Regions from separate parts of the Homo sapiens genome. Here region 1 is linked to region 2. Evidence: fine-mapped expression QTL. A gene starts in region 2. The other region holds a variant in brackets. All regions are shown on one strand. Distances are from middle to middle.

Evidence for each region.
Region 1: its variant is fine-mapped to the expression of INPP5K in whole blood (TOPMed, PIP above 0.99).

What each region holds. Positions count from the first base shown.
Region 1 is chr17:1,493,256-1,496,039 of GRCh38, reverse strand. It overlaps INPP5K (inositol polyphosphate-5-phosphatase K), which reads left to right. Exons shown (of 12, transcript NM_016532.4): 12 at 161-1,463. The coding sequence ends at 217. It overlaps LOC105371483 (a long non-coding RNA gene), which reads right to left. Exons shown (of 2, transcript XR_934145.4): 1 at 2,415-2,784; 2 at 1,346-2,090. Among named protein-coding and RNA genes, the nearest start is that of MYO1C, 2.0 kb to the right of the region's middle. The variant C/T (reference allele first, on the strand shown) is at 1,064.
Region 2 is chr17:1,515,053-1,517,836 of GRCh38, reverse strand. It overlaps INPP5K (inositol polyphosphate-5-phosphatase K), which reads left to right and starts at 1,225. Exons shown (of 12, transcript NM_016532.4): 1 at 1,225-1,381. The coding sequence starts at 1,338. It overlaps PITPNA-AS1 (PITPNA antisense RNA 1), which reads right to left and starts at 918. Exons shown (of 2, transcript NR_028514.1): 1 at 744-918; 2 at 1-119. PITPNA (phosphatidylinositol transfer protein alpha) reads left to right here. Exons shown (of 12, transcript NM_006224.4): 12 at 1-119. RefSeq lists a silencer at 840-1,139.

The sequences.
Region 1 (2,784 bases), 22 kb after region 2:
AAGGGGAAGGGTGAGGGCTTGAGCTCATCACTGGCTCCCTGAGGCCCAGGCCTGGGAGCCAGCCGGTACATGAGGGGCCGCTGCAGTGCAGGAACGGGGGTGATGGAAAGCACGGAGGAAGACCCGCTCTCCATTTCCACCACCTGCTTTATCCCTGCAGATCCCGCCTGGCTCCTTGAGGGAGGACCCACTGGGTGAAGCACAGCCACAGATCTGAGCCAGGATGGGAGTGAATCCCAGGCGGAGGCCAGAGCTGGCAGCCAGCTCTGCCTTTCCACTGCCGGGAGTGCTGGGGGCCCAGCCTGGCCCCCTGAAGAGACAGCCAAGTGTCGTCCACATACTCCTCCCAGAGTGAGCTCTAACCAGGCTCATTTGCTCTCTCCACTACTCATCTCTGGAATTAGCCGCTTAAATACAGGTTTTTGTTGCTGAGATGTGAGTGAAACCAGCTAGTGTGTCAACAGTGAAGACCTGGGGACAGTTCTGCGTCTCATTTCTGGATTCCTACCCCCTCTTCTAGTCTTGCCCAAGTAGTCCTGCCAGGCACATGCCCCATTTGGCACAGGCCTGCATTCTTGTCGTGCCGTCCTGGGCCTCAGGCTGTCTGGGAGGGGAGATGCTCACATTTGTACAGGCTACATAGACTGGTGCAAGCAGTGCTGGATTCCAGGAGTCTTGGCATCTCATAGCTTGTCCCCGTGAGGAGTGAGCAGAGGGTCTGGGATTTCTGCTTTCAGCAAAAGCAGTCTGACTCAGTGGGCAGAATGGAGGGGCCCCTCTAGCCAGGCTCTTACGCCATGGTTATGAGCAGGTTGATGAGGGTCCTTCGGCCAGCACAACCTTCCTCCCTACTCACGGCATGGAGTCTGACTGCATGGAAGTTCCAGATCCTGACAGAGAGAACTGGGAAGGATCCAGGTTCGCTTCCGTTGGTAGCTTGAGTCCCATGCCTCCACCCTGCCATCTGAGGAAGGGGTGACAAGTGGTCAAGGAGCTGTGGCCACAGACTTTTCCAGGGTGGTCCTTGGCAGGTGAGGTGCGTCTGTGCCACCCTTGTCAGGAG[C/T]CATTGACGACGGGCCCCCCCTGGACCCCCCGGGACCTCAGAGTGGGGGCAGGCAGAAGGGAGAACCAGCTCAAGACATTTTGGAGGATCTGGCCCTGGGGTTCTTCAGAGAACACCCTCTAGGGGCTTTGGGGACATGGCCTGTCCCCACATCCAGCACTTGCCTCCGCCATGGTCACTCGGCAGCCCTTTTCCCAGGAGAAGACACCTCTGGGAGCCTGCTCAGTGCTTGTCCTGCCATCCTGTGTCCTGGGACTGAGGGTTACTCCAGTTGCTCTGTGTTGCATACTCTCCCCCGCAAGCCTGTGTATGAAGAATTGTCCCCTGGCTTCCAGCAGGCCATGGCTGGCTGTTTTGTGACTGTTACATTGTGCAGGGGTAATTATTAGCGTGGCTTTTACACTTGCGTGTGACTGATGATTGGGGGGTGGGGGTACGGTGATGGGCCTGGGACTAGCTGTAGATTCCAGGAACAGGGACCCTGTAGATCCCAACTAGACTTCTGTGTCTGAGATTTGCAGAAGTGGCCAGGACTGGGGCTAGGATGAGGTTCTAGAATGGTGAGCCTCTGGGGCCCTAACCAGGTGGAGCATGCCATCTATGCCGGTGGCCGCTTAATGTACTCTGTTAAGTCAAATGAGCTCTTGTTCATCCCTCCTGACCCGCTGCTCTGCATACCCTGGTGTTGAGCCTTCTGCCTGCGTTAACCAGTCCAGAATGCCACCATCTTCTCTTTCTGCCCCACTTCTCCTCAGCCCCTTCTTGCTGAGTTTTCCCCCATGGTAACCTATCCCTGCCCCCAACACATATACCTAGGGACCTCCAAAGCCCTCACTTGCCCACCTGTTCCTTCTCACATGCACAGCCATCACGAGGGTTACTGCATGGCACCCTTCATTGGGCAGATGGGAAAGCCAAGGCTCAGAGAAGTGGTACAGTCTCTTCAAAGTTCCAGGCACCTGTGGTTTCCCACAGGACCAGAAACAGGAATGGGGTCTGAACCCACCCGCAGAGCGGTCTCAGTAGTCTGTAAAATACAGATGATGTCCCTATTCTCAAGATTACTGTGGGAGAACAATTGCAGAAAGTGTATCGCACTAGACCCGCCTCCCCGTTCTGATTAATGCGGCCCCGGGGCTTGACCCCAGGGGTCCCCCCACATGCTCACCTCCCCCGTGGTGAACTGAGGTCGCCACACACCCAGCCTCCTGTGTGGGAGGGGTGAGCCCAGCAGTGATTGAGAGGCGGAAAGGGGAATGGGGGGTGCTCTCCGTCCTCTGGGCCCCAGTCAGGATATGGCCGTTCTGGGTCCACCCCGACCCACTGGGTGGAAACAGGAAATAAGTGAGACCTGGTGTGCACTGGGTCTACGCCTGGCTCCACGGCTGATAAGGGCCATTGTGTGGCCGCCGGGGATGAGCCTGCTCTGGATAGATGTGCTTCCCGGAGGAAGGAAGGAAGGCTTGCTAGCTTTTCCGGGGCGGGGGAAGCTGTGGGGAGAGAGAAGGGTGCCGGGGGGAAGGCCCCTGCCTATGGGGCTGTCGGTGCCAGCACACACCCACGGGACTCAGCCCTTCCTATGCCAGCCTCTCCCTCTGGAAAGGTCTGTTTCCCCTATCCACTTCCCTGTTCTTACTTCCTATAAGGAATGGCTGGAGACTGGAGGGCTCAGTCTCAGGCCAGGAAAGTGTCAGCTGTGATTTAGCAACAATAAAAATAGA
Region 2 (2,784 bases):
CCGTGTCAGTTTACTTATGCAAACATTGCACATCTGAATTGTAATTCGGCCGTTTCCTACTGACAGGATGTCCTTTTGCTTTTGTCTGCCTCCTCTTCACATCTTCCTCTTTATCCACCCTACCAAACAAGCAAAACATTTATTTAAAGTAGTTTTAGGCCGGGCGCGGTGGCTCACACCTGAAATCGCAGCACTCTGGGAGGCCGAGGCGGGTGGATCAGCTGAGGTCAGGAGTTCGAGACCAGCCTGACCAACATGGCGAAACCCCATCTCGGCTAATTATTATTATTATTTTTTTTTTTTGAAACGAAGTCTCGCTCTGTCGCGCAGGCTGGGGTGCAGTGGCGCAATCTCGGCTCACTGCAACCTCCACCTCCCGGGTTCAGGCGATTCTCCTGCCTCAGCCTCCCGAGTAGCTGGGATTAACAGGCGCGCGCTATCAAGCCCAGCTAGCTTTTGTGTTTTTAGCAGAGACGGGGTTTCACCATGTTAAGGCCAGGCTGGTCTTAAACTCCTGACCTCAAGTGAGCCGCCCGCCTCGGCCTCCCAAAGTGCTGGGATTACAGGCATTGAGCCACCGCGCCCCGGCCTACGTTTCATTTATTGACGGCTAATTCTGTAGGAGTCCAGGAATCCCCAAACGTCCCATATGCAATAGGTAATCCAATAAGTTTGGAGTAGAAGCCTGAAAGTGGGCGTGGAGAACGGAGGCGCTCCCGCAGTAGCAGGAATGGGGAGATTACCTGCAGCCGGGGGGCGGGGGAGACCGGATCCCAGGCAGGACAGTGGCTAGGCTGCGTGTCCCCACCCCCGACCCTCGTTTGACCCCTGGGAGCCGGGGCGAAGACAGCACAAGGACGGAGCCCTCGGATCCCTCACGAGTGGGGCAGAGGCTGCGGCGGCGGCGAAGAGACAACTTCCGCCGGAAGACGGCCCCTGGCGCGGGGCACGCTGGGAGCTGCGGACGGCGGGCGCGGGCTGGGCCGGGTCTAGTGGCGGCCGCACACCTCGCGTCGTCTGGGGCAGTGTTGCGCGTGCGCTGATGACAGGCCCGACACGCCCCTCTTACGTCCGCGAACCCGTCTTCGCTCAGCCTCTCGCAGCTTTGCGCTCGTGGGAGAGTCCCGCCTCCTTCTGCGAACCGCACCACCCAGATCCCGGGGTGCGCGGAGGGCGCGTCTCTGACGGAAGCCGGGGCGGACGGTCGGAGTCCGGAAGAAAAACAGTCCGCGACAGCTAGGCGCGTGAGACCGGCCGCCCGCAGGGCTGCTCTGGCCGGGACCCGCTGGCCGGGAGACGCGAACCTGCCGGACCACCGCGCGGGGACGACGGCGGCCATGAGCTCGCGGAAGCTGAGCGGGCCGAAAGGCAGGAGGCTCAGGTGAGGGCACCCTGGCGGCAGAGGCAGGCCTGCTCGGGGGGATCGGCGCCCCTTGGGCTGCGGGCTGGGGGTGGACAAGGCACCAGACCTCCATGACTGCCTTTGGTTCAGAGGCGCTCTCGCCTTCTCCCACGCCTGTGTCAGGTGGGCTGTGTTGGGCCCGAGCCTCGCGCCCCCTCTAAGCCGAGGCCGCCAAGCTCGTTCCCACTGGGGCGCAGCAGGTGTCCCGGTTGCTTTCTGGAGAGGACAGCCGTGTGGGGTTGTTTGAGGTTAAAGACATAACGAGGCCGTCACCCTTCGGCTCTCGGTTAGAAATCTTTTTCCTACTTTTCATCAGCACATACATCAGGAGGTCTGCCTGATCCCATGGTGAACCCCGGGAATCCGAAATCAGATTGAGATAAGATCCTTTAGGGAAGTGACTTAGCCTGGTCTCTTGCCTGCTCTTTCACGGGGAACAACGCTAATCGCCCACTTAGTCTAAGTCACGATGCTTGGATTTGCTGCTAATCGTCGGATTTGAGAGTGGGAACAAGAAATCCGGACTTTTGCTCTCCATCCTCTTAGAGTGAGTCTGGGAAAAGAAGTCTCTGAGTAAAAGGTCTTTGTTCCTTAAGCCTCTGTCGGACAGCAGGGGGAGATCGTAAACAAATGAAGCTCAAAATCTCAGGCCGAGTGCCTGGGAAGGTGGTTTCTGTATAGTGTTGTTTATGCTAACAGGGAGGGACAGGAAGTTGCTTTAAACTGGCCAAGAATTTCTTGAAGTGCTTTTGAGAACGTCGACCTCTAAGGACGGGGTCTGTTGGAGGAGAGATGTTTTGGCATTAACTGCCCTTTTCTCCCATCCCCCTGTACCCTCTGCCATTCCAGATCTCCAGCTGCTGCAGGTACTCCTCATCGTGTGCCTAGGACTCATGCTAGGCTGTTCCTGGTCTCTGCAGGGTCTGTAGCTCCTGCCCGCTCTGTGCTCCGCACAGTCTGAGGCTTCTTGAAGAGCTGCTGTGACTGACTGTTCCACTAAAGACATCTGTAGGTCTCTCTTTCCTGAGCCTCTGACTGGATCCAGTGTCATTGAGGCCCCTTATCTAGTTTTCTTGCTTCCCTAAGACTTGTAAGCTGAGGTGGAAAATATCCAACTGATGACTTTTCCCCAGAGAGTACTCTTTATTTTTCACGGAATACTACGCAGACATAGAGCATAGACTCTTAAGAGAGATGTCGAGAAACCTGTTACTTAAAAACTCCTTGGCCGGGCGCGGTGGCTCAGGCCTGTAATCCCAGCACTTTGGGAGGCTGAGGCGGGCGGATCACCTGAGAGATCAGGAGTTCAGGACCAGCCTGGCCAACATGGTGAAACCCCGTCTCTACTAAAAATACAAAAGTTAGCCAGATGTGGTGGCACA